Regions from separate parts of the Homo sapiens genome. Here all the other regions are linked to region 1. The links come from fine-mapping of genetic effects on gene expression. A gene starts in region 1. Each other region holds a variant in brackets. All regions are shown on one strand. Distances are from middle to middle.

Region 1 (8,163 bases):
CCGACATCACTGGAATACCTTGCTCCAGCCATCCCTGAAGCCAAAATACCTGGGCCTTTTCAGCAACGTGAGCCAGTAGATTTTTATTTTCCTCTATCTAGTTTGCATTCAGCTCATGTCTTTTTAACTAATAAAGAATCCTAACTAATTCAGGGGAATGCTCAAGGTAGTCTCAATTGAACAGCCTATGTGATCCTTTTCAATATATAATCAAACTATGCCCCCCTCCTGCTCAAGACCCTGAAATGTCCCCTGCCCATGTTAACTTCCCACCCCATGGCCCTAGCAATAAAGGCCAAAGTCCTCAGGGTGACCGGCCACATTCAATATAATCTGACCCCTCCCTTCTCTGCCCCCAGCCTTTAACTCTCCAATGCTCACTCTACCTGGCCACACTGGCCTCTAGGCTGCTCCCCGACACACCAGCCCTGTGCCTTCCGGCCTCTGCTTCAGGCAGTCCCTCCCCGGACAGTCTTCTTCAGATACTCACCCACTAACTCCCTCACCTCCTTCCAGTCTGCTCAAATATCAAGTACTCAACAAGGCCTGCCAAATCCTCTTCCTCGCGGCCAGTTCTCCTTTTTCCTCCTTCCATGGCATTTATGGTGTAATACAGTACAAACTTGCTGAAATGTATCCAGTGAGGGCAGGGTTTTCAGCTAATTTATTCAAGTTCCTAGAACAGTGCCTGGCTCATAGTAGGCCCTCAAATATGTATCAAATGAACAAAAAGAATGACAGGAGCCTCAAAGGAGCAGAGCCTGGTTTGTAAAAGGTGATGGAGGAAAAGCCTTCTCTATTTTGAAGACTTCAGAGGACGTCTAAGTGACCTAAGGAGGCAGGAAGTAGATGAAGAGTTCAGAGAAGAGATTGAGGATGTGGGAGGAGGTGTTAGCCACACAATGGGGCTTAAGAATCCAGTATTAAGTTTTGGGAGGGGTACAGAAGTTAGAGGCTGAGTCAGAGGAGAAGCAGCCTGGAGCAATTTACAGATGAAAGTTAAAAAAGGAGAGTAAGGCTAAGTGATGTATTTACATTTTAGATGGAGATAGCCATATAAGGTCCAGTGAGGCTCACGCCTGTAATCCCAGAACTTTGGGAGGCAGAGGTGGGCAGATCATCTGAGGTCAGAAGTTCGAGACCAGCCAGGCTAACATGGTAAAACCCCATCACTACTAAAAATAAAAAAATTAGCCAGGTGTGGTGGCAGTCACCTGTAATCTCAGCTACTCAGGAGGCTGAGGCAGGAGAATCACATGAACCCAGGAGGGAAAGGTTGCAGTGAGACTGCACCACTGCACTCTAGCCTAGGCAACAGAGTGAGACTCCATCTCAAAAAAAAAAAAAAAAAAAAAAGGCCCAGTGAGTTTAGCAGGCATCAAAAGAATTAGTCCTGGCAACCTCTGGTAGATAGAAAGGATTCCTCCTTTGGGAGCCTATGAAGGGAGGCATCACACCATGATTTGAACAATTTGAGAAATTGGTGGAGAGTCCATCATATTCAGTCTTTCTCTTCTACCCAAGCACTACAGAGTTCATTCACAAGCGTCAGCTGGACCAAGACACCAGGCTACCCTGTTCATCGCACCATCTTGGGCCCTCAGAAAGCAATTCCCCTTTGCATAATAACCCTGTACTATGACCAGCCTGTCAAACCTTCATTCCCCTGGCCCAGAACTGACGCAGAATCCCTGTCATCCAGGATCACAACCCCAGTATCTAACAAGACAAAACTGGCTTCTTTTCAAAGACAGACCATAGCACTGAACTGTCCTAACACCCCTCTGATGACCCTCATGCTGCTGAGGTAGGAGAAAGCCAGCCACAGGGAAGGCTTCCTTCTTCTGGCTCTGACTCACCTCTGTGGCTTGCTAGCTTCTCTCTACAGAAATTTCTTCAGAGTTATGAGACCATACGTGTATGCCAAGATTCAAGGAAAATGTTACTCCTAGTCAGAGAAAGAAATTACAATGCTTAGCCTCTAAGGAAAAGTGGCTTACTATAAATCAGGCCCTTGAGAATGGTGTCATTTAGATGCTCCCCACAGCTGTTAGGAGATTCATTAAATATTCAATAATTAGGCCAGGCACAGTGGCTCATGTTTGTAATCCCAGCACTTTGGGAGGCCGAGGAGGGCAGATCACTTGAAGCCAGGAGTTCGAGACTAGCCTGGCCAACATGGCGAAACCTCGTCTCTACTAAAAATACACAAATTACCTGGTCAAGGTAGCACACGCCTGTAATCACAGCTATACGGGAGCTGAGACACGAGAATCACTTTGACCAGGGAGGTGGAGGTTGCAGTGAGTCAGGATCAGGCCACTGCGCTCCAGCCTGGGTGACAGAGTAAGTCTCTGCTCAAAAAAATACATATATATTCAATAATTAATAATGCCTTCAAGACTCTCCCTCCTACACAGAACAGACCCTTTAAAGGAAGCCATCGGTAATTAGACTTGAGACTGACTTCTTCACCACTAACCAGATCTTGGTGGTACGGGGAATTTGTCTTCCAAGTGCTTATTAGTAAAATGCTCATACTTCTGAGTCAGGTATCATCCATGAGTGAATCGTTAGGTAAATATTTTAAATGGCTATCTGTAGTAGCCAGTCTCCAAGATGGCCCAATGATCCCCACCTCTTGGTATACACACCCTGATATTCACACCCTCTCCCCACATTGTACCAGTGTCAATCTGTGTGACCAACAGAATACAGCAGAGGCATGTCATTTCCAAGATAAGTTATACAAGACTGGCTAGAGTCTTGAGCTCTCTTGGATCACTTGCTCTGGGGGGAAAAACCAGTTGCCACATCAAACAGCCCTATGGAGAGTAACTAAGACCTGCCAACAGCCATGTGAGTGAGCTTAGAAGTGGATCCTCCCCTAATCCAGCCTTCAGATGACTGCAGCCCAAGCCAACAACTTGACTGCAACCTCAAGAAAGGCCTAATTCAGAACCACTCAGATTGTCCCACAGACACTATTTCCAGGTGATAAGTTTTGGGGTAATTTGCTACACAGCAATAGATAATTAATTCAGTGTCCCACACAGAACTGAGAAGGAAATGAGGTTTAACCCCCAGTTCCTACACTATTTTAAGACCAATTTTTGTCGATAAGAAAGCAAATTTATTCAGTTATTCAACATTTTTTGGAGACAGGGTCTCACTCTCTTGCCCAGGCTGGAGTACAGCGGTGCAATCATAGCTCACTGCAGCCTTGAACTCCCAGGCTCAAGCAATCCTCCCGCCTCAGCCTCCTGAGTAGCCTGGATTACAGGTGCATGCCACCATGCTGTGTGCGTATGTGGAAACGGGGTCTCGATATGTTGCCCAGGCTGGTCTCAAACTTTTGGTTCAGAGCAATCATCCCACTTCAGCCTCCCAAAGTGCTGGTATTACAGGTGTGAGCCACTGCACCTGGCCTCCATTAGCTTTTTTAATTTTCCTGTTCCTAATGCTTTGGAACTTCACTCCCTGCTTTCACAAACCCTCTGCAGAAGGTACATCAAGTCGCACTCTCTAGTGATTTTAAGTGCTCAGTGACCTTCTGACTGCAAGGAGGGCAGGTTATATTTTCTCATACTCCTTTTTCACTGTACCACATGGTGTCCCCTCTAACGGGAGAAGAAAGTTAGGTCCCCTGCTCCCATTAATATTGGGACAAGGGGGAATTCATTTAGTATTTTACTAGGGAGAGAAAATCTTGATCACAAGACCTGAGAACAATTCTAATTTCTGCAGTTAGTGACTAAGTGACGGCAGGAGCGGGGATACAATCACTGCTCAAGTCTCCTTCACAGCTGAAATGGCCATGGGGGTAGGGAGGAGGTCGTCCCTTACCCCTGCCTGGACTCTGCTGTCTCTCCAAGCAGCAGGAGGGTTGTGCTGCTCTAAGAAAATCTGGAGCCTCCCTCCGTACAAAGAAGGTCAAAGGGCGAGCTTTCTTTCCATCAACCACAAAACCAGCCTCTGCCAAACCTAAACAGAGTGGTAGGCCGTCGGAGGTGAATGGAGCCCCAGACAGAAAACCACAACGAGGCTCTCCTCCCGCCGCCGGCTGGGGTCTGAGTCAGGTGACTCCTCAGGACAAACAGCAAACCTAAACAAAGATCACTCCCCACATGACTGACTAGGGGGAAGAAGACTCTCGCTGTAAGCCCAGGGCTGCCCGGTCCCAGCACGGAAAGCCAGGAACTCCTGCTTTCTGTGCAGTCTCGGAAACTGGAGGAGCTACAAGTTATGCAGCAGCTCAGCCTGCAGGGATGCACCTGGAGGAACTCGGAACCCCATCCGAGGACACAGGCGCCCTGCCCTGAACACACGCCTCCCGCTCCAACACGCAGGCTGGACCCCTCCCCACCAGCTGTCACCGGTGCTTGCGACCAGTCACAGGCAGCGAAGCCTGTCCCTCTGCGGCTGCGACCCCGCGGAGGCGGCAGAGGAGACGCTTCGCCGAGGGCTCCGGGGCCAGGACACGCCCGTCCCCCGGGAAGGGGCGGCAGGGTGGGCGCGGCCCCAGGCCCACGAAGGCTCCGGATCCATCATCCCCCCCACGGGGAGCGAAATAAGCCTCCCACTCCCCGGCCCCAGGCGCCCCACCTTGTCACCGAAGCTGCGGGCCATCAGCAGGTCCGGGCTGGGCGTGCTGTCACCACCCACGGCCTCCTCGCTGCTGGAGCCGGCCAGCGGGTGCGGCATGTCGCGCAGGGAGTGGGGCCCCGTGGACGGCAGGGCCTTGGGGGGCCCGCCCGCCATGGCGCGCACCGCTCGGGACGCGCCGCCGCCGCTTCCTCCTGCTGCCCGCCGCGGCGAGCTCCCCGAGCACCCCGGGCCGAGCCCCGCTCGGCCGCCGCTTAACCCGAGGCCTTGCACCGGCCGTGCTGGGGGCCGCCGCCACCCGCCGGCTGGTCTCTGCCGGCGCTCAGACGCTCCGCTCCGCGCCGCGCGCCCCCGCTCCGCGCCCGAGCCCGCCGCGGGTCCGCTGGCAGCACGGCCGCGGCGCCCAGCCCACACAGCCACACCGCCCACCCGCTCCGGCCCCGCCCCCGAGGCGCCGCGGCCGCCCGGGAGGGGGCGGGGAGGGCGGGGAAGGGGCACGTGGGGAAGGAAGGACGGAGGGAGGGAGGGAGGAGGCGCGGCCCCGCCCCCGCCCGGCAGGAAGTGCGCCCTGGGCCTCTGCGGCTGTCCTCCCAGTGTCCAACGTTGCCTCGCGGAGGCCGCCGTGCGGAGCAAATGTCTAACGGAAATCAGAGGTGGAAAAGAGGTTGGAGGAGCCTGTTCCGTTCCACCCGCGTTTACTGATGCGCCCACCAGCAGCCACGCTTGGGGCTGGGGGCTTTGAGGACACGCACGTGAGTCAGGGTCTTCTGGCCTCTAAGGCACGCGCAGGAAGAACCCTAGATAGACGGAATTACGACCCATATCGGAAGAATAGCATAAAGGGCGACAAGGCTCAAATGAGCTAGAGGACATCGGGTGGGGAACCTGGAAGGGACTTCAAAGAGGCGGTGTGGGGAGTCTTCAGGCTCACTCTGAGGTCCCCATTGTGGCTTGCTTCTGCAGCTGAGCTGGATTTGTGTAAAGTCAAACCTCAGAACAGCGAGCATGAGTAGAGAGTCTCAAATGATATGCGACTCTTCAACTCACACTTTGGCCGAAGAGACTTTTGAAAGAACCATGAGGTTCAAGTTATTCTTCATGCATTTGTGCTTCCTTTCCAGGCCTTGGGCTGAGCTGATTCTCAGCTTTATTTGCTGGCGTGGTGCAAATAGTCAAGGTGTTACTTCCAGCCCTTTGGGGTGTAGGTTCACCTCCTTTTTCCACCTTACCTGTCCCTAGATCTTCTGTTTCCAAGGCCAAGTCTTTAAAGGGTTTTCAGTCCCTCTAGCAAAGTAATGGGTAGGGAGGCTCATCGTGAGGGACCACATTTTCCCTACCCATTCCAAACTCAAAGGTTTGCCTAGCCTTACCTGCTAAAAGGTGATGACAGATGTTGACTCTGGGATTCACTAAGGCCTCTACCACAGTTTTCTCTAGAAACAAATAGAAGAGAATGCAGAGGGTTGAAATCTACCCAAAATATCAGTCAGAGACTCTGAGCTTCAAAGACCTTCCCCTATTTCCCCCAATGTAATTTATATAGGGTTGGACCCTTAGTCCTCAAGCTATCATCTTTATCTCCTCCACATAAGCCTGCCTTGGCTGGGAAAAGTAGCATTCAAAGGGCACTGGGAACAATTTTAAATGCTGCATCTAAGGAATGCCAAGTTCTGGTCCTCTTGGAGTTGGATTAAAATTGTTAACACTTTCACATTCAAGGGCTGCTTACAACTACTACAGACCCTATTATCTGTTCTTCTGAATTAGCATGAAAATGAATAGCACAATATAACTAGAAATGAGTATTTCTAGAAATGAGTATATACATCTATAGATGTATAACATCGGTTTTTCTTATTGAATGGTGCTACTTATTTTAACAACCAGGCTGCCTTAAATATAATGGACATCCGTATGGATTAAGACTCTATACAAGCTTTCTCTTTAGTACACCAGGGGAAAGTGAAAAAAGAACCACATTTGAATTCGGCTTTGTCACTACAAGTGGGTGACCATGAGCAAGTTACTAACCTCAGTGAACCTGTTCCTAACCTAAAAAGGAGGAGAATGGAGAGCAGGTAATAATACCTTATGAGATGGTTGTGAGAGTTATATAGCATTCTTTATGTCATAGTCCTAGCAAAGTGCTGGCATAAAATAGGTGCTCCCTAAATGTTAATTACCTACCTTCCTTTCCCTTTCTGTCAGATTTTCTCTACTATTCTTATGAAATAATAAAGAGTTTTTGTAATTAAATATGCTTTACTATTCTGAGTAGGGTCTGGTTGAATATACATATATATACACACACATACACACCAGGTAGGGTGCCTCACACCTGTAATCCCAGCACTTTGGGAGGCCAAGGTGGGAGGATCACTTGAGCCCATAAGTTCAAGACCAGCTTGGGCAACATAGTGAGAGCCCCATCTCTATAAAAAATGTAAAAATTAGTCCGGCATGGTGGCACATACCTGTAGTCCCAGCTACCCAAGAGGCTGAGGTGGAAGGATTGCTTGAGCCTGGGAGGTTGAGGGTGCAATGAGCTGAGATTGCACCACTGTACTTCAGCCTGGGCAACAGAAGGAGACCTTGTCTCAAAATAAAAAAAAATATATATATATATACATATATATGTGTGTGTACATATATATGTGTGTATATGTGTGTGTGTGTGTGTGTGTGTGTATTGACCTCCAAAGTCCTCCATTTGCTCAGTTTAGATTGGAGTACCACTTTTCTATGCTCCCACCAAAAAAAGGACCCAGACCCAGAGTTCCTAAAAGGCCATATGAAATAGTTGATTACAGTTTATTTATTTATTTTCCAGTTTCCTGGTTGGTCGATAGCAGCTGGCCACAATATCCAGTGGGTAGTCATCAAAACTAAAGAAAGTGAATTTGTATGGAAAGTATTTTGGTAGAAAGTTTCCACGATGAAATTTAGCCCAGCCCTGCCCATTCATATTCACCATTTCCTGTGGTATTTCAGTGTTCCTTGTGGTGGGAAATTGTCACTGAAATAATATAAGTGTCCCAGAGCATGTGACTTTGCTTCTACTAAAAGGTTTTGTTTTTTTTTTTTTTTTTTCTTGGAGACAGGGCCTTGCTCTGTCGCCCAGGCTGGAGTGCAGTGGCGCAATCTCAGCTCACTGCAACCTCCGCCTCCCAGGTTCAAGCGATTCTCCTGCCTCAGCCTCCACAGTAGCTGGGATTACAGGTGTGTGCCACCATGCCCGGCTAATTTTTGTATTTTTAGTAGAGACAGGGTTTCACCATGTTGTCCAGGCTGGTCTCAAACTCATGACCTCAAGTGATCTGCCTGCCTTGGCCTCCCAAAGTGCTGGGATTACAGGCTACTAAAAGTTTTAAAAGCAGCATGGTGGTAAGGAGGAAACGTGTAACGTTTCTCCATCAGAGCAGAAGGCTGTGGTGTTTGTTGGAACTTATGGAGGGAAGCTTGGATTTCTAGGGTTGAGCTCTGAGGAAGATAGTAGATGTATGTGTGTGCATGAGGGGCGAGGGAGGTCCCCAATGCCACCAGAACCCAAGAACACAG
Region 2 (8,163 bases), 110 kb before region 1:
GAGTTCTGAGGAGGCGGGAGGAGTTCTGAGGAGGTGGGAGGAGCTCTGAAGAGGAATCCTGAGGAGCCAGGAGGAATTCTGAGGAAGTGAAAGGAGTTCTGAGGAGGAAGGAGGAATTCTGAGGAGGTGGGAGGAGTTCTGAGGAAGGAGGAGGAGTTCTGAGGAGGGAGGAGGAATACTGAGGTGGGAGGAGTTCTGAGGATGGAGGAGGAGTTCTGAGGAAGGAGGAGGAGTTCTGAGGAGGGAGGAGGAATTCTGAGGAGGTGGGAAGAGTTCTGAGGAGGGAGGAGGAATTCTGAGGAGGTGGGAAGAGTTCTGAGGAGGGAGGAGGAATTCTGAGGAGGTGGGAGGAGTTCTGAGGAGGGAGGAGGAATCCTGAGGAGGCAGGAGTTCTGAGGAGGGAGGAAAAATCCTGAGGAGGCAGGAGTTCTGAGGAGGGAGGAGGAATCCTGAGGAGGCAGGAGTTGTGAGGAGGGAGGAGGAATCCTGAGAAGGAATCCTGAGGTAGGAGGAGTTCCGAGGGGGTGGGGAGTTCTGAGGAGGTGGGAGGAGTTCTGAGGAGGGAGAAGGAATTCTGAGGAGGTGGGAATAGTTCTGAGGAGGGAGAAAGAATTCTGAGGAGGTGGGAGGAATTCTGAGGAGGGGGGAGGAGTTCTGAGGAGGGAGAAGGAATTCTGAGGAAGGAGGAGGAGTTCTGAGGAGGGAGGAGGAATTCTGAGGAGGTGGGAGGAGTTCTGAGGAGGCAGGAGGAATTCTGAGGAGGGAGGAGGAGTTCTGAGGAGGTGGGAGGAGTTCTGAGGAGGTGGGAGGAGTTCTGAGGAGGTGGGAGGAATTCTAATGGGGGGAGTTCTGAGGAGGGGGAGGAATTCTGAGGAGGTAGGAGGAGTTCTGAGGAGGCAGGAGGAGTTCTGAGGATGTGGGAGGAGTTCTGAGGAGGTGGGAGGAATTCCCAGGAGGTGGGAGAAGTTCTGAGGAGGGAGGAGGAGAGAGGCATCCTAGGTCAAGCCAGAAAGAAGAGTGGTGAAATTGCTTCCTGATTCCTCCTTGGTGACTCTGAGGTTAGAGAGGAAGCTAAACTCTGAAGCCCACCTTATATACGGAAGATGATCTGGGGTCTGTGGCATTCCAGGTCCTGCTCTCTCCCTAGGCCATCACTTCAGATCTGCAATGGACTTTGTATGTCAGCCATGATAAACCAAGGCCATACCAGTTTTCTATTTGGTCCTCAAATGTACCAAACTCTTTCCTGCCCCAGGGACTTTGCGTATGTTGTCTCCTATACCTGGAATATATGTTTTCCAAGCCTCTGTCTCTGAGACTCGGATGAAATGTCATTTCCTCAGACTGGCCTTTCCTGACCACTCCACTTGCCCCTCCCACCCTTAGTCTGCATTATGCCCCCTAGTATTTTCTCCCCCAGTTTCCCGTTCTTTTCCTTATCTCACTCTGAAGCTGTGGGCTCCTTTGATGAACACATACCCTCCACAGGGCAGGAATCCTGCTGTTTATCAATTTGGTACACACTGCCCCTTGCACACAGCAAGTGCACAAAAAGCATTTGTTAAATATGTATAGAAGCAATACCAGGCCCCAAGACAGTGGCCCTGCCTGTGATATAGTGGGAAGACAGATAAACACGTACTTAAGACCAGGGTTGGGTCCTCCTGGGACCAGGACTTTAGGAACGCTGGGATTAATTACCAAAGGGAGCAACAGAGACATTTGACATAGTTGGTTTTGTAGTAGTAGGAAGGCCGCTGAACAGCAGAGGGAAGGTGTGGGAGTTACAGAAGAAAGGAACTCTGGGTAACAGACTGCACTACTGCACTCCAACCTGGGTAACAGAGTTTTTGACCCTATCGCAATATATATATATATATACATACATACATACATACACACACACACACACTCACTCATGTGTGTATGTATGTATGTATATGTGTGTATATATATGTGTGTATACGTGTGTGTGTGTGTGCATACATACATACATATATATATATATATATATATATATATATATATATATGGCGTGACAGGATCAAAAAACTCTGTTACCCAGGTTGGAGTACAGTAGTGCACAATCATGACTCACTGTAGCCTTGAACTCCTGGCTCAAGCCATCCTCCTGCCACAGCCTCCCGAGTAGCTGGAACTATAGGCACACGCCACCACACCTGGCTCATTTTGTATCTTTTGTAACGACAGTCCCACTACATTGCCTAGGCTGGTCTTGAGCTGGGCTCAAGTGATCCTCCCACCTCGGACTCTTCAAGTGCTGGGATTACGGGCGTGAGCCACTGCACCTGGCCTCGCACTGGTTTGCTGGACATACGAATCAAGCAAACCTTGATTGAGGGGACTGGGCTGTAGCCTGATAAGAGTCATCTCTATGTGTGTGTGGTGTGTGTATGGTGTGTGTGGGGGTTGTGTGTGAGGGTTGTGTGAGGTATGTGGGTGTGGTGTGTGGGTGTCGTGTGTGGGGGGGTTGTGTGTGGGGTGTGTATGTGGGGTGTATGTGTAGGGGGTGTGTGGTGTGCATGTAGTATGGGGGGTGTGTGGTGTATGTGTGGTGTGTGTGTAGTGTGGGGGGGTGTGGTGTGTGTGTAGTGTGTGTGTGGGGTGTGGTGGTGGTAGTGGGGTGTGTGGGTGTGTGTGTGTGTGCACGCGCATGTGCGTGCGCTGCTTAACCTGGTCAAGGGGATCCATGAGTAAAAGTTTTTAATAGAATTGCTTTCCTTTGTAATCCTACATCCCTTTATTTTACGTATTTAAAATCAATATTTTGAAGTCTATTTAAAAAACAAATGCACAGTATTTTGGTGAGGGGTCTATAGGCTTCACCAGATGACCAAAGGGGTTCACTGCACAACCAAACTGAAGGGACCCTGTGTACAGAACCCCAACACAGAGTAAAGTAACCCCAAAGCCTCCATTCGGTGGCAGCATCACTGTGCTGAAGGTCTGACTGGCTCTGGGAAGCAACCAGTGCCAGGCCCAGAAAGCATGGAAGACGAATGGGCTGCTTCCCCAGCAGCATGTGCAAGGGAAACCCCTGTGAGCACCCCCTCTGCTGCCAAACCCAGCACTGCAGCCACATGGTTGGGCAAGGGCATGAAGCGGGAGCCAAGACTAAGCAGCTAAAATAAGGGAAGGAGATGAGACTAGCAGGATTCCCAGCTTGTGGATTTCTGGTAGGCCCATGTGAAAGGCTCTGGCCATTAGAAACCAGTCTTGTTGGGCACACTCATTACCTTCTCATAATACTGGATGTTCTTGTCAGCCATCCCCATGAGTAGCTGCCGGAAGTCCTGCCTCTTGTTGTTCTGCCACCTCTCCATGTCAGCTTTCAGGTCAGCATTGAAACACTCCATCCGATCCTGACATTTCTCGACGTCCGCCGGTACCTGGAAAAGGGAGGCACACATGGGTGCCCTGCACACAAAACTGGCATCTCTTGCCTTGAGCTCCTCTGAGCACACATTTGTCAAAGGCCAAAGCCCTACATTAAAATGCTATCAACACGCTCCCTCCTCTGGAGGCATTTATTTGAAAGCAAAACCTTGGGTTTTCAGGTCTAAGGAGGAGCTCTGAAAAGGGGCTCTCCTAACCCAGATCTTCAAACCCATCCAAACACAACAGAGACTCGTGGGGGAAACACCCCCATTTACACACAGGAAGAAGAAACATTGCAATTCAGACTCATATGTCTTTGGTTCCTTTTAGGATTTACTCATCCACACTTGAAAGTGTGTGCAGACTTTGCAAATATACAGCATTTGTATTGCCCTGCTATTCTCCTGTGTCCCATATTGGAACTAGAGAAGAGGTAGGTTCTCCCAGATCACATGAACTATTCCATTGCTGTGACATTTGATGATGCCTTTCCTCATTAATCAGAGAATTGCAATAAGACAACTACTGGCCAGCTGCCTCCTCTGAACCCCACATCATAAATAAACTGGAGGCTTGTTTATGCTTTTCCCAATAGCAGATACTTTTAAATGGAGAGTTAGAGAAGTCTGAGAAAACAGGAGGAAAGTTACTTATGCATGTCAAAAAAATTTGAAATTCAAAGAAGAAATATACAGCAGGCTATTTCAAGTTTTTCTTAAAGAGGTTTAGAAGACTTTCTCAAAAGGGAACTATGTCACTTGAAGTTTCACAACTTTCACTTTGCTTTGGTGAATTTCACCATCCTGTGCAGCTGGAGTTTGGGCTTTGTGGCTGCAGCGCTTCCCAAAGCTGGCTTCTCTCTCCTAACTCAAGCACTTCACTGAGCCCTGATGGCGGCCAGGGAGCCGACAGGCCCAAAGCCAGGTCAAACCCCCGACCTGCCAAATGTATCCCAACCACAAGTGAGGCCTTTTATGTTTGGTGTGCTGGGGCCCATGAACCAAACTGTCTCCAAGCCATGGCTCACCCCTGGGAGTCCACTTCCACCAATCGAGGAGGTTTATACCCAAGCCTCGTGGACAAGGAGCTGACCCAGAATGATGCCAATGAGAAAGACAGGCCTGAGGGAGCTGGACACCTTCAGGGTACTCAGCCATCTTCTCCACAGACCACGTGGAGATGGTTGTAGAACACAGGAGTCAGGGAAGAGACATGGCCAAGGCAAGTGAATTTGAATGTGCCTGACACGGGAACTAGACATGGGTGAAACCAGGATGAGCTGGAGAGAGAGATAACTAGACACTCTGGAAATTTAAAAGCAAGGAATTTTTCTGTTAAGATGGGGAAAGAGGCCTTCTTCAAAGCACATAAGCTTCTGGAAGAGGGAAAAAAAAAATACTGGGCTGAGTGCAGTGGTTCATGCCTCCCAGCACTTTGGGAGGCCAAGGCAGAAGATCACTGGAGGTCAGGAATTTGAGACCAGCCTGGGCAACATAGTAAGACCCCCATCTCTA[C/T]AATAAGTAGGATGTGGTGGCGCTATGTTGTCCAGGCTGGTCTCGAACTCCTGGCCTCCAGTGATCCTCCCACCTCGGTCCCCCAAAGCACTGGAATTACAGGTTTGAGCCACCATACCAGGTCAGAGACTGACTTTTTCTTCTGATGCCATGATTTAAGTCTCTTTTGCCTCCTCCCAAGACCACCCATTACTATTGGTTACCTCAGGAAAAACTGAAATAAAAACCAGAGTATCCCAGTCTTGCCTCTCCAGAGTCACTCCAGGAATCAGCCTCAATGGAAAGATGCCCAGCGAGCCAGTGTCTCTGGCTGGCCTCACCTCCCCACAGGCACAGGCCAGTTCCCTTACCCGTCTCCTGGCCACTGCTCACACTTGCATTGGGGTGAGGGTGCCTATGAGCAACTTCCTGTTTGCTTAACGAAACTTCTGCTGTGAGGAGAAAATGGAAAGCCCTGGAAAGAGAACCTCACCAGGACACGTGGAGAGGAGGGCAGCCAGGGTCTCTGAATCAGGACTGTTCACAGAGGAAAGATTCCCAGGTTTAAAGATTCCCAGGTGTGTTCTGGAGATGGGAACTCTGACTGACCCAGAAAAATCAGGGTCTAAACCACGGCTGTGGGTTTTAGGACTGCCTGAGCCTCGGTCTGGGAAATATTTGGCTTCTCAGTTTCACAACACATTCTGTGCTTGGCACTGAGGAATACAAAAGTGCTTGGGTCTCAACAGACAAATCTTGTCTCCCGTAACCTACAGTCTAGTTGGGAAGAAACAGGAACATGCCTAGACACTGAGGCAAGATATCGTAAGTGTTGTCGCTTCCCCTGCAGCCCCCGTGATAAGCACGCTGAGGAGGATGGAGGGGGCGGCCAACCTGGGAAGATCGGGCCTCATGGAGGAAACAGCACTGAGGCGGCTCTTTAAAGATGACAGATGTGAGATGTTTGACCACTTGGAAGGCACTCCAGAGTGGCGGTACACACAAGGGACAGAGGAGAGAAGACACCAGGACCCACCGCAGGAATTGTGCACAGGCCACAGGGCCCACAGCGGCACGGAGAGGGAACTGCAGCTCGCAAGACTGGCAGAGGGTGGCAGGGGATGAGGAACCTGAGGCTCGTCCCAAAGTCCTGCTTTCCTGAGGCCCAGTTAACTCATGCCCACTCTTGGAGAATAGAAAAAGCCCCACACTTCCTCCAGCTGCAGTGGACAGCTCTAGAACCAAACTTCCAGAGCTTAGCTTGCACACCCCACCTGCCACTTACCAGGTGTGTGGCCTGGGACCTGGCCTCAGCTTCTCTGTCTGGCTAATAATATCCTCCGCCTCACTAGGCTGTCATGAGGCCAGACAGGCTAATATGTGTTAAGTGCTTTACAGCGTCCTAATTAGGAAGGGGGAGTTGGGCTGACAGGACCAAGGGAAAGCAAAAAGAGAAGGCAGATTAAGCTATACTTCTGCTTTTCTTCATGGTCCAGGACACATAGCCTTCCTGCACAAATATTAATAACACAATCTTCCTGCACCCAGCTATCACCAGACCCTCAGTTAATAGAAAAATGCAAGTTTGCTCACTGCGACCTTGGAGTTATCAGCACTGCATGAAGCCCTCTTCAGTACACAGCACGAGCACCATTCTATGAAATCCCCAGCAAGCCTTTGTTTCTGGGCAGTCAGCTCCCTTCCTGCTGATCTGCCTGTTGCACTCTTGCAATGTATTTTCCTACTTTTTCTAATAAATCTGTTTTTCTTTACCTATAATTGTCTTGGTAAATTCTTCTTACCCCTGCAACACTGGTTCCAGAGAGTCATTGCACACCTGTGACACACTTGTGCCTGGCATATAGTAAGTGCTCAATAAACATTTGTTAGCTCATATCAGTATCAATATTATAATTTGCTGTTCACAAAAGATAATCTATCCCTTGCACAGCTCCTCAAGCTTTATTCCATGTGTTATAAAACAGGTTTTCATCTTCCAAATACAAACTATATTATTATATGTTCTCCCAAACATTATGCCACCCTTTGCCAATGCTACTCCACCCTGAGATTTCATTAGACACCAGAGATGAATCATCTCCAAACTACATATTAGCATGAGATTGCACTGGGCATCCTGGAACTGGGGTTGTGGCTCTAACACCAGAAGGGAGAGGATGGAGTAAACCAACCTGGTGGAGACAGAACTGACAGATTTGGCAACTGGCTGCCCATGAGAAATAAAATACAGGGAGTCCGAGAGAAGCCTGAAGTTTCTAGTCTGGATGACTAGGGTGGCACTAATGCCACCAAAGGCTCAGAATGAAGGACAGGTCCACAGATCACAGAAAGGAGGGAGTTGCAGCCAGGGGAAGAGTGATGCCTCCCTCCACAAAGCGGGGTGAGATAACAAGAAAACCAAACACAGCTCTTTTATAAAGGCTTATGGAAAAGAATACACAACCAAATTTAAAAATGAGCAAAGGACTTAAACGTATCTCCAAAGAAGATAAACAGTCAGCTGGGCGCAGTGGCTCACGCCTGTAATCCCAGCACTTTGGGAGCCTGAGGCGGGCAGATCACAAGGTCAAGAGATCGAGACCACCCTGGCCAACACGGTGAAACCCTGTCTGTACTGAAAATACAATAAAATTAGCTGGGCATGGTGGTGTGCTCCTGTAGTCTCAACTACTTAGGAGGCTGAGGCAGGAGAATTGCTTGATCCAGGGAGGTGGAGGTTGCAGTGAGCCGAGATCACGCCACTGCACTCCAGCCTGGCGACAGAGCGAGACTCCATCTCAAAAAAATAAAAATAAAGAAGATAAACAGTCAACAAGGACATGAAAAGATGCTCAACATCATAATCACTAGTGAAATGCTAATCAAAGCCACAGTGAGATAGCACCTCACACTCATCAGGATGGCTACTATTAAAAAAAATAACAAAAACAGAAAATAGGCCAGGTGCAGCGGCTCACACCTGTAATCCCAGCACTTCAGGAGGCCAAGGCAAGTGGATCACCTGAGGTCAGGAGTTCGAGACCAGCCTGGCTGGTCTCCGGGAGGCGGAGATTGCAGTGAGCCAAGATCACGCCACTGCACTCTAGCCTGGGCGACAGAGAAAGACTCTGTCTCAAAAAAATAGATAAGCGTTGGTAAGAACATAGGGAAACTAGAACCCTTGTACATTGTTGGTGGATTGTAAAACAGTATAGCTGCTATGGAAAACAGTATGGAGATTCCTCAAAAATTTTAAAATAGAACTACTATA
Region 3 (8,163 bases), 120 kb before region 1:
ACACAGCAGTCCCAGGCCCTGTGAGGGGCTTCAGACTCCAGCTACAGCGAGCCTGCCCCTTTTCTTCAAGGGACTGTCTTGAGGGCTCCAAAGTATAGCTAACTAGTCACCTGGGTGCTGTGCTGAAAGTCCCATGGGAGAACTCAAAGCGTGCATTATCACAGCCTGAGGGGAATGTGGAAGGGATGTTTTGTAAGAACTACCAACAGTTTTGCACGAACAATGTCTTTTAAATTAAAATAAAACCTTGAAAAAAGTCAGCTTTCTTTCCTGAGTCTTCCTTACCTACAAACACTCAGGAGGGGGATGGAGCTCAGGCCCTTGTCTTCTGGGTAGTTTTGTTACTACTGTTGCTTTTAAGAAGCAAATGTCACAAGGCTTTCTTCAATGGGATGTTCAATTGAGTACTTCCAGTCAACAGTGCTTCCCAAAGTGGGTGGTGTGAAGGAAGAGGAGGTACATTAAGAGCTATTTTATTTGAGGTAGTCATTTTTATAACCTTGTTTACTTGGATTTATAAAAGCAGACTCACCTAATAAAATCAACATTCATTGTATGAGTGTGTGAATCGTTCCTTCCCAGGTCAGATTCTGTCTGTGACTACAGACTTGATGTTCTTATACAGGATAAAATACACGGCTGCAGAATACATTCAAGGTATTTGGGCTCTGAGAGTTTGTATCTCTAATCCTCTTGCAGGGAATGAACAAAACTCTATGACACATCTAATAAGGTCCAGGCCCCATGCTAGGTGCTGAGATACAGAAAGAATAGCACGTGACTGTGTCTGCCCTAGCACAGTGTACTGTCTATCAGGTGAAGCAGACAGAACAGCAGATAGGGATGTCTCCTTCCACTGGGAAGGAGCCAGCACCCTTGCACTGAGTCAGGCAACATGAGCAGAGCAGATGGGATGGGAAAGATGAGTTCAAGAAGTTCAAGATCACGTTCAACCTCTCCAACCTCACTAATATAAGGGAGCACGGAATCCAGATTTGGGAGAGCAGGAAGGGCATCCCAGAAATGACTTCTATGACAAGGCTGGAAGGGTAAGTAGCAGTTACTAAGGCCAGATGTTGGGGGACATTCCAGGCAGAAGGAACAACTTGCTGGAAGGCCTGAAGGTGAAAATATATCAAAGGTTTAGGAATTCAGTGTGAAGGCAGCAGACGGAAGGACAAGTATTACGGAGGACAGTAAGATGAGACTGGGGTGGTAAGGAGGAATAACATAAAATATCCTTTCAAAAGAAAAAGATGTTTCTCTTCAGAGTAAATGGGGATAGCTGTTGGAAGGTGTTAAGCAGGAACACAGAGTGCTTAAATTTGCATCTTAGAAACAGCTCCCTGGCAACACTGAGGACAATGAATTGGTGGAAGGAGTGAGCAAGCTTGAAGAAAGGAGATGAGCTGTGAAGCCCTTGCAGTAAACCAGGTGAAGGATAATGGCAGACTGACTGGCCAGCCTTGGTGGCTCAGGCCTATAATCCCAGCACTCTGGGAGGCCAAGCTAGGAAGATCACTTGAGGCCAGGAATCCAGCACTAGCCTGAGCAAATAGCGAGACCACTATCTCTACAAAAAAAATTAAAATTACCTGGGTATGGTGGTGTGCACCTATAATCCCAGCTACTCAGGAGGCTAAAACGACAGGATCGCTTGAGCCCGAGTTCAAGGCTGCAGTGAGCTATGACTGGGCCACTATACCCCTGCCTGGGTGAGAGAGCAAGATTGCCTCTTAAAAAAAAAAATTAAAGTAAAAAAATAATAGCAGACGTAGGGTAGGAAGCTACAAGCATGGAGAAAAGTAGATGGATATGGAAAAATATTTGGGAGTTAGAGGCTACAGGAGTTGGTTAATGGATGGATGGTAGAGGGTGAGGTAGATGGAGGCCAGAATGACTCAGATTTGGGGCTCAGGCCACTGGGAAAAAGGTAGCGCCCCCCTCCAACCCCAAGAGTCTGGCAGCATGAGCAGAGCAGATAGGATGGGAAAGATGAGGTCAAGACCATGTTCAACCTCTCCACCCTTACTCATCAATATGCTCATTCCCCAACTCCTTACCTTCTGGTCCAGCCTCTTGACCAGCTCCTCAGCCTGAATGAATCTAATCGTTCCTACTCCTGAAAAGCCTCTTACTGTTTAGAGAAATGTCATTCCTTGTCCACATTGACCGTGCTATATAAACTTGTGTTTTTTAACCTGAGCTGAGCTCTCAAAGCCCAAGTATTGGCTCCTTTTCAACTCCAGCTGTCACCAGGGTAGGAGTTTCAAACCTTGTCAGCTTTTCCAGGGTCACCATTTCTTCTAACAGATGTTCTAACCCAGGG[GT/T]TCTTGGGCCAGCAGCAGCAGCATCACCTGGGAACCGGTTAGAAATGAAAATTCTGGGATCTCACCCAAGTCAAACTCTAGGACTGGGGCTCAACAATTGGTGTCTCACAAGCCCTCATTTAAGAATCACCATTCTCACCTATGGGGCCCGATTTTTTCTCAAGAATTTTCCCTGAGTCCTCCTTGTCTCCCTGCATCCTTTTTTTTTTTTTTTGACAGTCTTACTCTTTTGCCCAGGCTGTAGTGCAGTGGTGCAATCGCAGCTCACTGCAACCTCCACCTCCAGAGTTCAAGCAATTCTCCTGCCTCAGCCACCTGAGCAGCTGGGAATACAAGCACGCACCACCATGTCTGGCTAATTTTTGTATTTTTGATAGAGACAGGTTTCGCCATGTTGGCTAGGCCGGTCTCGAACTCCTGGCTTCAAATGATCCACCTGCCTCGACCTCCCAAAGTGCTGGGATTACAGGTATGAGCCATTGCACCCTGCCTGTATTCTTAATTCTTGAGGCCTCCAAGGTCCTGTCCTTGGTTCTCTTCCCATGCAATCTAGTCCACCCCCATGGACTCCAGAACTTCATTTCCAACAGCCAAGTCAACATCTCCACCTGGATTTCCTCAAACCTAAAGCGAAACCAAGTTCTCCTTCTCACACCCCACCACCTAAGCTCATTCCATCTTTTTTGATTTTTAATTTTTGTAGAGACGGGGTCTACGTTGCTCAGGCTGGTCTTTAACTCTTGGGCTCAAGTGATCTCCTGCTGTGGCCTCCCAAAGTGCTGGGATTACAGGAATGAGCCACCACGCCCAGCCTCCATATTCTGTCTTTCTCTCCTAATTTTAGCTAATGGCATCGCCTCCAAATCCCAGGCTGGCAATCTTCCAGTCATCTCCGGTCCATTCTCCTCCCCCCAAGAATCTCTTAAATCGGCTATTTTCACCTCCCTTTATCACTTCTTGCCATGGCTTTTGGAATTTATTCCTCCCCATTCTTCAGGCCTTCAATCTGACACCGTCCTTCAGTATTTTATTTCCATCACCTTGTTAAAAAGAAAACAGGGCCAGGCACAGTGGCTTATGCCTGTAATCCCAGCACTTTGGGAGGCCAAGGCAAGCGAATTGCTTGAGCTCAGGAGTTCAATACCAGCCTGGGCAACATGGCAAAACCCCGTCTCTGCGAAAAATAAAAAAATTAGCCGGGCATGGTGGCACGTACCTGTAGCACCAGCTACTCGGGAGACTGAGGCGGGGGGACTGCTTGGGCCTGGAAGGCAGAGGTTGCAGTGAGCTGAGATCATGCCACTGCACTTCAGCCTGGGTGACAAAGCAAAAGAAAAAAAAAAGAATATCCTGTTAAACAAAAAAACTGGCAAAGCATACATGAAGGATTGTTATCCTTAATATTTAAATTGGCCATATCCTTAAGGATAATATCCTAATAGCCTTAATATTTAAATTAGGAAGTCTTTAGAAAGGGGCTATCACAGTGAGAAGCTGCCTGACATTTAAGTGCTTTGCATACCATATTGCTAGTCCTATCGACAACCCCATGTGGAAGTCTTGTTTTCATCTCAAAGATCGTAATACTAAATATTCAGCCAAGTGTGACTTGCCTAAAGCCACATAGCTAGTAAGTGGAAAAGCTGAGATTTGATCCATGATCCACGTCTTATTCAGCTTGCTGCCTTATTTTGTATGACTGCAGTCTTAAAGTAAGTCAAGTTGAGCACTATTTTAAATATACTCAAGTTCAATGCATTACCATCATCAGGTCAACTTAACTGGCCCTGATGCAGAATATAATGTTGTGCTTTGCTATGGGATAACACAGGAAATCTTTCATGTAGTAAATACCTCAGCTGGCTGTCGGCCTGCCTGCCAGTCATGATGGCTACTACACTAGGAAGTTTCTTCATCTCCCCAGATTGGTGCAGATGTGGAAGATGTAGAAGAGGGTAAATTGAGGGTAAACTGGGCCTATAAAGAAGTGAAGAAGAATAAAAATAGTTCAATTATATATATTTTTTCCTGTCGCTCTGTATGTCTTGATTCTTACAGGCAAACTGAAAACTTGTAAAGAGAAAATAAGAAAACAGAAAAATAGGCACACATGTTTTTCTGCCTTACAAAAAGGTACAAATGAGGACATGACTCCAGATAAAGAAAGCATCTTTTATGGGTTTATTGGTCCTTTAAGTTAATTGAAGTAAAGAAACTTTAAATTTACAAGCTAATATTTATCAAGCAATACAAATTCTTTTGTTTACCTCAAAATGTAATACTAATTCCATAGTAAACAACAATTTTTTTATACACAGATATATGAAAAAAGTGGACAAAAACCTCGTGCCAGCATCAAAAAGTCAACAAAAAAACGATTCTTTTTCCATTTTACAATCTCTGGTTTCCATAACAAACAAAAAAAAGGGTGACATTCTTTTTAAAGTTTGGTAGCTTCATGAAACAAAGACTTCCATCTGTAAATAAATCACTTTCTTATCAACACACTCTCTCAAGCACTTTTTTTATCACAGCTTTTGTTTTGGCATAATGGCAGCATGGAGAGAAGGTAACATTTACACGGTGGACTACATCAATACCTCAGAAGGTTTTTATTTTAAAATTTTAAACGTAAAGAATGACTTTTAAAAATAAGATGACAGTCCATAATGTGGACATGTCCAAAGCCGAAGTTTTTAATCTCTTCTTTAACAGTTAAAATACAAGTTAGAAAGTTTGCTGGCAGTTTATTTCACAGGAATATATCAGATGGACATCATCTCTCAATGCACTCCCAACTCACAGCAATGAAGGGAACAGGCACACAGAAATACAACAGACAGGGAATCCACCAGACTTCATCCAAACTTCAGGGGTGTCTAGGCCAAAAGCGCCTTTAAGAGATGCTGGTTTGTTATTGGATAAAGGCCGAGATGACAGAGCCACTGCTTCATCACACTGACTCACATTTTGGTTTGCAATCCACTTTCCTCTCTCCTCATTTCCACATGGAGGAAAAAAAGTGATTTTCCTTTCCTCCTCCCAGTAACATTTCTGACTGAAGTGTTGGTCTAAGACTGCGAACAATCAATCCTGTCCAACAGGGGTGTTGCTGGGTGTCACCTACTAGGACCAGCCTACAGAGAGCCCAGAACCACCTGGTGTGGGAGTGCTGCTGCTGACAGAGAATATGCAATGCTCCTCGCCACTGGTGTTAACACTAAAGGCTCTGCTAAAATGGACTAAATTACATGAGTCAACATCATGTTTTCTGTTTTTGGCATTTCAACCCATAGAGAATTTCTATCTGAAACAAGCTGCTCTGAGGCTTGAAGATACCCCCCAGTATCTTCAAAAGCTGTTCTGCAGAATCAGGAGTAACATTTAATACTGTTGTCATCTATAGCATTCTTTGTTTCTACGTGATTTGTCAATGCCGATACTATATCCTCTAAAATCAAAAGTATGCCAAAAGGCACTAATCTTTCACACTTAAAAAAAAAAAAAAGGTTTTGTGGTCCCTGTGTTTCCTTACATTATCAAAAATATCATTTGGCAAAAGCAGTCCTTAGTTTTCCCCTCCCCAAAGCCAACCCTAGTGATGGCCCTCACTTTCTTGCTTGTTTCTTTAGGGGGCCTGAGGACTGACTATGTTAGATCTCTATATTATTGAAGCTGAACAACTGATTACATTTCTAAAACTCTTTCTACCCAGGACTTTTAAAACACTAGGTGAAGAAGAATAAGGCATATTAGTAGGTACGGACAAATTCTCAAAAAAGTAGAGTTGGGCTTTGAAAAGTCTGTGGCATTTTTTTAAATTCTGGATTTGTTGATTTTCAAGTGCTAAATACACAGAATGTTTATATAGGAGACAAATATCTTATTGGTTTGTTATTTTTTTAAAGCACTTATTTACAGACTCTCTGTAGTAGTAAAAACTACCTGGAAAACATATTTTTCTGCCACACAGAAAGGGTTAGACAGTCATACTCAGGATGTATCTCAAATTATGATGAAGAAAGAACAGTCTAATCCCCTGCAACAAAGCCCCCACCCCAACCTTTCTAACACAGACAACTTACACACACTCTGATACATGTAACTGTGAGACCAGGCATCTCTCAAACAAAAAGCTGACAATCTACAGGGTGGGTTGGTGAAAAAATGGATTCCTGGTTTATTCACTGAATTGAAAAGATCACAAGGCAGAACAAGGCCGAAGAGAACAATTCCAACACACCCAACGCAAGCTGTGAGGCTGGCCCAGGAGAGAACATTTTCCTCAAATTTACTGATACAGGCCTCCTGCCATCTGACAGACAAGACACAAGAAATGAGAGGGTGTGTCCATCTGCTGCCATCTTGAAGGCTTTTGGAAGTGAGACAGGAAACCCAAGCTCCCAACCTAAGTTTGTAAATGAGGGTGGCCAAAGCAGGGTTGCCCCAGCCCTATAATTGGATCACCCAGTTTCCACAGGTCCTTAAAGTAGGTGTCTGGGAAGGTGGAGTCCAGACTGGTATGCCCTGTCCTGACCACAGGCAGCCCATCTTCTGAGAAGAATCACCCTCAGTGCAGCCAGCAACCCATCTGGCCAGACTGGAACCCAGTTCTAACCCACCCCAAGACCCAAGGAGAAGAGGCTGACATAGGCCTTGGAGGTTGCTCTTGACTTCCCTCTTCCTCCTCTCTCACCAGCTCAAGAGAGAACGTAAAGAATGACTGTCCCGCAGTCCAATGAATGGTGTCAAAACAGAGCCCAATGCCTGTGATTTCAAAGCTAACGATGGCAGGACCAAGTCACACAGTAACTCTGGATGTTCCTCGGGCTGCCATCCCAAAATTCCACTTGCAGACTGCCACATGGTCATCGTGCCCTCCTCTAAAGCAGAACTTCCTGTTATTTGATCACAAAAGGCAGCCTCACAAGAAGTGAGCAGCAGGTGTGCATTCATTCAACTTCCCCATGTGGAGTGGGAACTGGGAAAACCATTCAAATCAACAACATCTAGAGCACACTCTGGGTGGGGCTGAAATCTGGCATGAAAACAGACTTAGCTTACAGTCACCATGATCTCCAGGTCATGCTGGTTTATTTCAACTAAAGAAAGGTGTCTGGTGAGTTGAAGGAATGACGTGGTGGAATATGGAGCCAATCATCTCCATAATCACACTTTAAGGTGAACAGGATTCATTATAAAACTTTTATTAAAGGATAAAACCCAATGCTAAGCCTGGCTGGGTGGTATGTTCCCTCCCCATTGAGGAGCAGTGGTTCCTCGCTCTGAGCAGAACAGCCTAGAATGTTCGTGTAGATCTACCACATTAGTAAGAAAAAGCAGTGCCCATGCTTGCTACAAATCACAAGGCTCTCTTAAACATCATTTGCGTCTCTAAAATCTGCTCAGTTCCTAGGACTCCTCTCTTCTGTCTTCCTCTGGATTTTTAACCCGGGCGAATGAAATCTCCCACTTTCCAGGCCTGGGGCGGCTGCTAGGGAGGGCCTTGTATTCCACTGCCATGTATTCAAGCCTCAAAACCTATGTCTGTCTGCTTGAGGTAAAGTAAATAATAATAATAATAAATACTTAAGAGAGGAGTACTGATCTCAGGGCCACAATTTTGTGAAGTCAAGAAGTGTGAGGTGATGAGACCTCTACAAGGCAGTCTTTGGCACAGAAGCCTCCGTGTGACACTTCTAGGGAATATCTCTTTTGTGCTTGGTCAAAACGAAGAGGCAAATGGTTGGGACTGCTGGCCCTCAGAGGCCCAGGGGAGCCTGCTTCACCACCTAACGTCCCCTTCCTTCTGGGCCAGCCTCCTCACCTCATG
Region 4 (8,163 bases), 160 kb before region 1:
CCAGGAGATGCAAAGAAAGGTCTTCTCTGTCTCTTTTGCACCTCTGAGCTCAGGGACAGATAATATCCCCATTAACAGGCTATTTTCCATAGACACTTCAGGCATGCCATTTACTCCCACCCACAGTGTTTTCGAAGAGGAATAGCTAGGAAGCAGCTGCTATAAAATCATTAGCAGAGAACAGAGCGTTAGTATGAACATAAGGCCCAGCAGCACTTGAAAGGAACTTCATATTCCTGATTTGTATCAGCTTCTTGATAGTCTGTATCTCGTTTTTCTCCCAGGAGACAATTCTGACCTCAGAAATCACCAAAGAAATATTGGCTACATTATCCAGACCTGGGATCACTGCCCTTTCAACCTTGCAGCCCTCACCAGGACAATATAGTTTTCATCAGATATGCTCAAGTGTTACAAACTTTTGCTTTGAATACTCATATTCTCTTTTCAAGCCCAGAAATTTGAAGTCAATCTCCATTTTCAAACTTCCCAGGCAGATCAATTCTGCACTGGTATAATCCAGTCATCAGGTGGGTTCTCTCCCAAGTTCTAGAGAACACTGGTTTAAACTCCTATCCTACAGTTTATGGAAATTCAAAGTTTTCTCAATATTTCCTACAGGTTTCCAGTCCAGGGAGATTCTCATATTCTCAGCTGTGGGCTGGCAGTATGATATTACCAGAAGTTGAGAATTAGGTACATTGGCCCTGAAGGGGGCACATGAGTGAATACCACAATTTCCACTGCAGCTCACCTCTCATATTTCTCTGATATCCCTTTGGGAACGACTTTCCCGTAATTCTGGTTGGCTTGTTTGCTGGGAAACTTACAAGAGAAAGATTAGTAGGATGAACTATAGCCTCTACTGCCGCAGCTATCCTGACACCATAAATGATATTCATCATCCCCTCCACCATTTACAATCCTGTCTTCCCCTCATTTTTGGCTAGTACCTCTGCTGGTCTAGGCGGCTTACCTGGTGAGGTGACCCAAACCATTCATCCCTAAGTGTCTGAGCCTTGATTTACTATGCCTTTCTCAGACTGTGGCTGCTCCAATTCTCCAACTACCGTTACCACTGGGTGTGGGAACACCAAGATGTGCTTCATGGTGGGGTCCAAACATATTCTTCCTGTCCCCCTTGAGTAGCAGTGACCTTAATTGCCCCTGCATTCCCTTTCTTACTGCTGTTCTTTTGACACATGGAACTGGAAGCGCCCCAGCGACAGCCATAGCTTAAATTGCAGTGGGATTCTTACTGTCTCCCCTGGTGGAGGCAGCCCCTTTTAGTGCTAAAGCTGCAGGAATGGAAAGCACAAATTTCCCAAGATCACTGAGAGAGATGAGAAGTGGGGCCAGGCCTACTTCCATCCCCCAGTTTCCAGGCTCATGTAGTCTACCTTTTGGAGACAGAAAACAGCACCATGCAATGGTTATTGATTTAGGGTCTCCTGGGGGATGGTACCCCATCCTTATAGGGTGTTAATTCTAAATTGAGATCTTGACTGGTTTCATAAAGGCCATTCTGCCACTCTAATAGGGTGGCTTCTGGGTGACAAAGTTTGAGATAGAAGAAGTGGGTCCCATGGCCAGGTGTCCACTATATACTTTTTTGCTGTGAAGTAGAATGCTTAGCTCTGATATTTTGCTGTTATCCAACACGCCGTTCGGTCTCAGATCATGGTACTGGCTGAGGCCCCACAACAGGAAAGACAACCCGATACACAGAATATAAGTTGAGCCTGGTCAGGATGGTATCTACTCCTTCTATTGTGCAAGGGATCCAATGCAATCAAATAGCCACCAAATGGCAGCTTAGTTTCCTAGGGGATGAGGCTATATCAGGGTTTCAGTACTGGTCTCTGGGGCTGATAGGCTGGACTTTGAGCAGAAGCAACAGCCAGATCAGCTGTCAGGTCCATGCAGAGTCTCCATCCCTACCACTGTGGCTACTCTATAAATGCACTCATTATTCCAACACCCAGGTATCTAATAACAGAAGCCAAATGATGTCAACTGGCTGAGTCACTTGGTCTGTATTTGTTGGATAATGCCTCTTCTATAACAGATACTCCAGTGGGCTAATGCACATGTGAAACAAAGATCTTCACACCTCCCATAAGTTTGCCCACATGCCTCCTCCTCAGAGCTCCTTAACCCTGATCTTTCAATCTATCTCCTTCCAAACCCCCCAGCAGACCATTTGCTACTACTCGTGAAACCATGTATATTCATACCTTGGGGAACTTACATGACCAGACATACCTGCTAGAGATTTCCCCATTGGTAGGATTTCTCACTGCTAGCTTTTAGTACCACACCTATGTCCGTCTGTTTTTGTGTTGATATAAAGAAATATCTAAGACTGGGTAATTTATAAAGAAAAGAGGTTTAATTGGCTCACAGTACAGAAAGCATGGTGCTGGCATCTGCTTCTGGTGACGCCTCAGGAAGCTTACAATCATGGTGGAAGGTCAAGGGGGAGCCAGCATATCACATGGCAAGAAGGAGCAAGAGAGAAAGACGGCAGAGGTCCCAAACTCTTTCAAACAACCAGACATCATGTGGATTAACTGGGCAAAATATCACTTATCACCAAGGGGATAGTGCCAAACCTTACTCATGAGGGATCCACTCCCATAATCCAATCAGCTCCCACCAGGCCCTACCTCCAATACTGTGAATCACATTTCAATATGAGATTTGCAAGAGACAAACATCCAAAGCATATCAATACCTAAGTAAGGGTTGTGATGCAGCTACTGTCCTCTGGTTTGTACTGAGATATCGAGTTGACCCATTTGTGAACCAAGTTTCAACCTTTTCTTCCCCTCCATCAGCTGTCATAAGAGGTTCCCCATGTGGCTGGTGCTGAAGGAGAAGCACTGGACAACATGAGATCTGGACCACCTGCTTTTGTGGCTTGCTTGTTCCTTCTGACCCTACATGTGCCCTATCCCACTGGTGTACCACTTCCATCTTATAGATTGCTGCTGGGCCCACCCAAACTTATGATGTGGTAGTCTGAAAGAAAACTTCTCATAATGGATAGTTCTGGTTGCATGATCATCTGATGTCTCTTGCTCACTTGCTTCATATTCACCAGGACCCAACAAGGATGGTGGAGAAACTGCTTTCTGAATAGTGTACAGTCATCCCTCCATATAGGTGCAGGATTGGTTCCCAGAATCCCACAGATATCAGAATCTGTGAATGCTCAAGCACCTGACATAAAATGATGTAGTATTTGTGTATAATCCTCCAGTATGCTTTAAATCATCTCCAGATTACTTAATACCTAATACAATGTAAATGCTACGTGAATAGTTGTTGTGCTGCATTGTTTTTTATTTGTATTATTTTTGTGGTTATATGGTTATTTTTCCTGGATATTTTTATTCAATGGGTGGTTGATTGAATCCATGGATGTGGAACCCATGGATACAGAGGCCCAACTATACAGTTCTCTGCTATAGATGGAATAGCCTTTCTCCAATAGGCACAATATCCTCTACTGTTCTCCTTCATGGGATTTGGGATTTGGGTAGTTTAATATTAGTTCTCTCTCTGGCATAAGTTATAGTTTAACCCCAAAAGTCAGAGATATTCTCCAGCTTTTGTCATTGATGGATATCAAAGATAATTGGTCACTGCATACCTTACCTCACAATTAAATACATCACTACTATTATGCCTTCCAAGCATCTCCCTAGTAGTCTAAACAGCCAATTTCCTTACTCTGTATTTAGGAATTTTCACCCAAATGTCCTTGCCCATCCTGTGGACTCTAGAACCAGGCTGTAAAGTAAATTCTGCCAATTCCCATGGGGAAAAGCTTCCTGGCACAATGGTATTGAGCTTTCTACAAATACCCTTGTACTATGTATCTCATAGTAATTTTCCTCTGAGCTAATGACATTATTTGGTTCTTTACCTACACTCTTTCCGAGTGATGAAATTTATTCTCA[T/C]GGCATTGACTACTAGTATTTTAAACCTTAAATTAATCACATTTTACCACCCCAGGATCTAAAAGCATAAAGGTTATCATTTTCTCTATCCATGGCCAATCTCTTTTTTAAAAAATCCTGAGTCTGATAGGCTAAGAGCGATCTATTCTTTAATTTTTCACATAATACTAACAATTTTGAACATTTGTTTCACATTCTCACTGTTAAAATGATTTCTTCCTATTTGGTTTATCTCTTCTTGTCACTTGGCCTTTGTACTGGATGCTGTGAAGCACTATCCGGACCCCCCTTTCACAGCTGATGCATTCATTCTCTCACTGTCAGTGGCTGAAAGATCTCAGCTGAGTCACTCTCTGGGAACTGGATTCAGCAGAAGAGAGCTGCCTAGCCCAAAATCATGCCCCTCTCTCTCCAGGGCAGCCTGAACCTAATGGCTGATCAATGTTGTATGGTGGGGAGTATAAAGGCGTGGCCCCCTGGCCTCAAGGTGGGGCAACATTGAAGGATCCTGTCAGCTCCCAAATTCGTGGAGGCCTTTGTTGCAACTACATCACAAGTCAACACCTCCCTCTGACAGATGCCACTTCCCTCATCCTCCTGGGTGTTGATCCCCAGAGCATGTTATAGCCCAGTGAGTTCACCTTGCCCGCTGCCTAGACAGAGCTGATTTATCGAGACAGGGGAATTGCAATGGATAGAGAGTAGTTCACGCAGAGTCAGCTGTGCAGGAGACTGGTGTTTTATTATTACTCAAATCAGTCTCCCTGAGCATTCACATTTGGAGATCGAGGTTTTTAAAGATAATTTGGTGGGTAGGGGCTCAGGAAGTAAGGAGCTGTGATTGGTCAGGTTGAAGATGGACTCATGGGGGTCAAAATGAAGTTTTCTTGCTGTGTCTTCTGCTCCTGGGTGGGATCACAGAACTAGCTGAGCCAGATTACCAGTCTGGGTGGTGTCAGCTGATCATTGAGTGCAGGGTCCGCAAAATATCTCAAGCCCTGATCTTAGGTTTTACAATAATGATGTTATCCCGAGGAACAACTGGGAGAGGTTCAGACTCTTGCAGGCAGAGGCCTCATGACCTCTAAACCTTAATTTCTAATTTGTAGCTAATTTGTTAGTCCTACAAAGGCAGTCTGGTCCCCAGGCAAGACAGGGATCTTTTTCAGGAAAGGGCTATTATCAATTTTGTTTCAGAGTCAAACCATAAACTGAATTCCTTCCCAAGGCTAGTTCGACCTACACACAGGAATGAACAAGGACGGATTAAAGGTTAGAAGCAGGATGGAGTCGGTTAGATCTGATCTCTCTCACTGTCATAATTTCCTCAGTTATAATTCTTGCAAAGGTGGTTTCAAGCACTACACAATAAACCTTCTGACCACGAATCTTTCTCTTAAGTCTGCTTTTTGGGGAGCCCAACCTAGGCACCCATTTCTTAAAGCTGGGAATATTTGTCTTATTCTTAATGATTTTTTAAATATATATTTATTTATTTATTTATTTATTTGAGACAAAGTCTGTTTTGTCACCCAGGCTGGAGTGCAGTGGCATGATCTTGGCTCACTACAACCTCTGCCTTTCAAGTTCAAGCAATTCTCCTGCCTCAGCCTCCTGAGTAGCTGGAATTATAGGTACCCACCACCATGCCCGGCTAATTTTTGTATTCTTAGTAGAGACGAGGTTTCACCATGTTGGTGAGGCTGGTCTCGAGCTCCTGACCTCAAGTGATCCACCCGCCTCGGCCTCCCAAAGTGCTAGAATTACAGACGTGAGCCACCGTGCCCAGTCGATTGTTTTAAACTTTAAAATTGTATTAGCCCTTAATGTTGTATAGGTTGATTGTCACTCAATTTATTTTTATTTTTGCAGAACAAGTTAAGTAGGTGAGGTAGTAGAACAAAAAACATACTGTTGTTGTAGGGCAGGAAGGGGTGGGAGCCCCTATGTGCACATAGGGTGACTTATGGGGCAAAAGGGGTGAATAACCAGCTTCCCACTTCCTAATCTCAGCCTTGCTATCAGCTTTGTTCCCATGAGCTGAAACATGCATATAAAAGTCTTTAATAGGCATAGTCAACTCTAATCAGATGATTTTAAGACTATGAAATGCTGGGCGACTGGCCTGTGGAGAAAGTACCCATTAGCCCCACAGAGCACTTGCAACAAACTCTGCAGGATAGGAATGCAAAGGTCATTCGCAGTTCACACAGCCCGTGCTTTCCCTGAGCCTCAGATGTGTTTCACCCTGGGCAGCTCCTCAGGAAGCAATGGAACAAACGACCTCCTCACAATGTGACCATGCAGATTCTAGTCTGTGCACCTACACCCTGGGCCTACTTTTAGCACCAATTGCCTCCCAGTCCCCAATCTACAGGGCTCTGGAGTCCCGCTCCTCAACGTGCAGGAATCCTAAGGCCCTGAGAACCACCTGTACTCTCTTTTTCAACCCTAGATTCAACATTTTTGTCACTCCTACACACACACACATACACACACACACAGAGAGAGAGAGAGAGACACCACTATTCTTTTCCTGGCAGCCACGGTGGCACGCAGTTGCCCTATCTGACCAGCAGTCCCTTACCCCTCACAGAAATGGTAGCTCTTCCTCTTCTGAGACAAGACATCATGCATTGGGGTTTTTTTTTTTTTTAGTTTTTAGTTCTTGTAGAGACAGGGTCTCACTGTATTGCCCAGGCTAATCTCAAACCCCTGGGCTCAAGTGATCCTCCCACCGTGGCCTCCCAAAGTGCTGGGATTACAGGTGTGAGCCACCGCACCTGGCCAAGAGTTCATGTTGGATATGGAAGAGATTGTTGGCTCCAGTTGGGGTCAGTGACAGACTCCTGAACTGAGGGGCTCCAGTGTCTGATCCCTTTTCTCAGCACAGAATAGGTGTTCCAGTATCTCAGTACTCAGAGGCAGTGAAAGAGTGAGAGATTGAGCCCTATCCTCTACCTCTACAGCAAAACTGAGGCCACAGCTAGAAAGGGTTGAGGACTGAATTTACCAAAACAGAGTGCTAGGAGCTTGGGGTTTTGGAAAAGGACGAATTGTGGACAAGTTGAGGATTGAACTGTCTACATTGGAAGAGAATGAGCAGTTATTTGTCATCTGGACCCAAATCCCCAAAAAAGTCTAGGCCTGGGCTTGGCTGATCTTCTACATGACAGAGGGACAGAGTCAAGCATCTCTGCTTTCAGACGTCAGTTACAGCAGGTCTCATTTTCATAGTGAAAATTGGTAAGTTTGAGAAAATTCACCCCACACAATATTTTCCCAAGACATGTTCAGTGGAAAAGTATTTATCTTTACATAGTTTAAAAGCTCAAAACTGTCCAGAAAACAAGACAAAGGTCTCCCTTAGGGTGTCCTCTTCCCATATAACATCTCATCTACATCTGGCCCATCTCACCTTCTTCCCAGCAGCCTTCTCCAGCTCAAAGAGAGGCCAGCCCTCCATCTCTTCCTCTTTACTGTACGATGTTCCATTACTTGCTCACCATCTCTCTCTCTCTCTCTGTCCTAATTTGTTTTTGTTTTTTTGTTTTTTGTTTTTTGTTTTGAGACAGGGTCTCACTCTGTTGCCGAGGCTGGAGTGCAATGGCACAATCTCAGCTCACTGCAACAACCTCCGCCTCCCAGGTTCAAGCAATTCTCACACCTCAGCCTCCTGAGTAGCTGAGATTACAGGCACATGCCTGTAATTTTTGTATTTTTAGTAGAGATGGGGTTTCACCATGTTAGCTAGGCAGGTCTCAAACTCGTGACCTGAAGTGATCTGCCGGCCTCCGCCTCCCAAAGTGCTGGGATTACAGGTGTGAGCCACCGCCCCCGGCCTCTCTGTCCTAATTATTTAATCAGTTCCTCGCTACTCGCTCCTCTCTCTGAGACTAAAATCCTTCCCAATAACCACGTTAAACAGTGTTCCTCCTGAAAACACACCTCCAGTGTACTTTGTCACATGTACCCGTAAGCTTTTGTTCATGTATCTGTGTTCACCAAAAACTTGTGACCTCCTTGAGGGACAGAGACGCCATGTTGCCCAAGGACATCATAGTCTATGTGAGTAGTGTTGGGTGGCGCACGTGATGGAATGAACGAACAATGATGAATGGCCAAGAGGAACATTTCCTCAGCTCGCTAGGTGGCGCTCAGGCATTTTTCAACTACACGATGTGGCAATGGTTCA

Direction of the effects. Positions count from the first base shown, and alleles are read on the strand shown. Sizes are in standard deviations (SD) of each study's normalised expression. Not every link is listed here.
For the expression in neutrophils of the gene that starts at base 5,003 in region 1, allele T in region 2 goes with a higher level than allele C (moderate effect, 0.58 SD a copy in BLUEPRINT).

What was found.
Region 2: its variant is fine-mapped to the expression of SNX30 in neutrophils (BLUEPRINT, PIP 0.95). The same link has a PIP of 0.9 or more in monocytes.
Region 3: its variant is fine-mapped to the expression of SNX30 in whole blood (INTERVAL, PIP above 0.99).
Region 4: its variant is fine-mapped to the expression of SNX30 in whole blood (TOPMed, PIP 0.98).

Annotation. Positions count from the first base shown.
Region 1 is chr9:112,747,600-112,755,762 of GRCh38, reverse strand. It overlaps SNX30 (sorting nexin family member 30), which reads right to left and starts at 5,003. Exons shown (of 9, transcript NM_001012994.2): 1 at 4,606-5,003. The coding sequence starts at 4,761. It overlaps SNX30-DT (SNX30 divergent transcript), which reads left to right and starts at 5,198. Exons shown (of 1, transcript NR_186503.1): 1 at 5,198-6,879. RefSeq lists enhancers at 1-569, 1,022-1,111, 570-1,184, 3,315-4,234, 4,235-5,156 and a silencer at 4,426-5,245.
Region 2 is chr9:112,859,494-112,867,656 of GRCh38, reverse strand. It overlaps SNX30 (sorting nexin family member 30), which reads right to left. Exons shown (of 9, transcript NM_001012994.2): 8 at 3,258-3,410. Among named protein-coding and RNA genes, the nearest start is that of SLC46A2, 27 kb to the left of the region's middle. RefSeq lists an enhancer at 441-942. The variant C/T (reference allele first, on the strand shown) is at 4,914.
Region 3 is chr9:112,871,313-112,879,475 of GRCh38, reverse strand. SNX30 (sorting nexin family member 30) reads right to left here. Exons shown (of 9, transcript NM_001012994.2): 9 at 4,489-8,163. SLC46A2 (solute carrier family 46 member 2) reads left to right here. Exons shown (of 4, transcript NM_033051.4): 4 at 1-556. Among named protein-coding and RNA genes, the nearest start is that of SLC46A2, 15 kb to the left of the region's middle. The variant GT/T (reference allele first, on the strand shown) is at 2,330.
Region 4 is chr9:112,903,278-112,911,440 of GRCh38, reverse strand. No RefSeq gene overlaps it. Among named protein-coding and RNA genes, the nearest start is that of SLC46A2, 16 kb to the right of the region's middle. The variant T/C (reference allele first, on the strand shown) is at 3,969.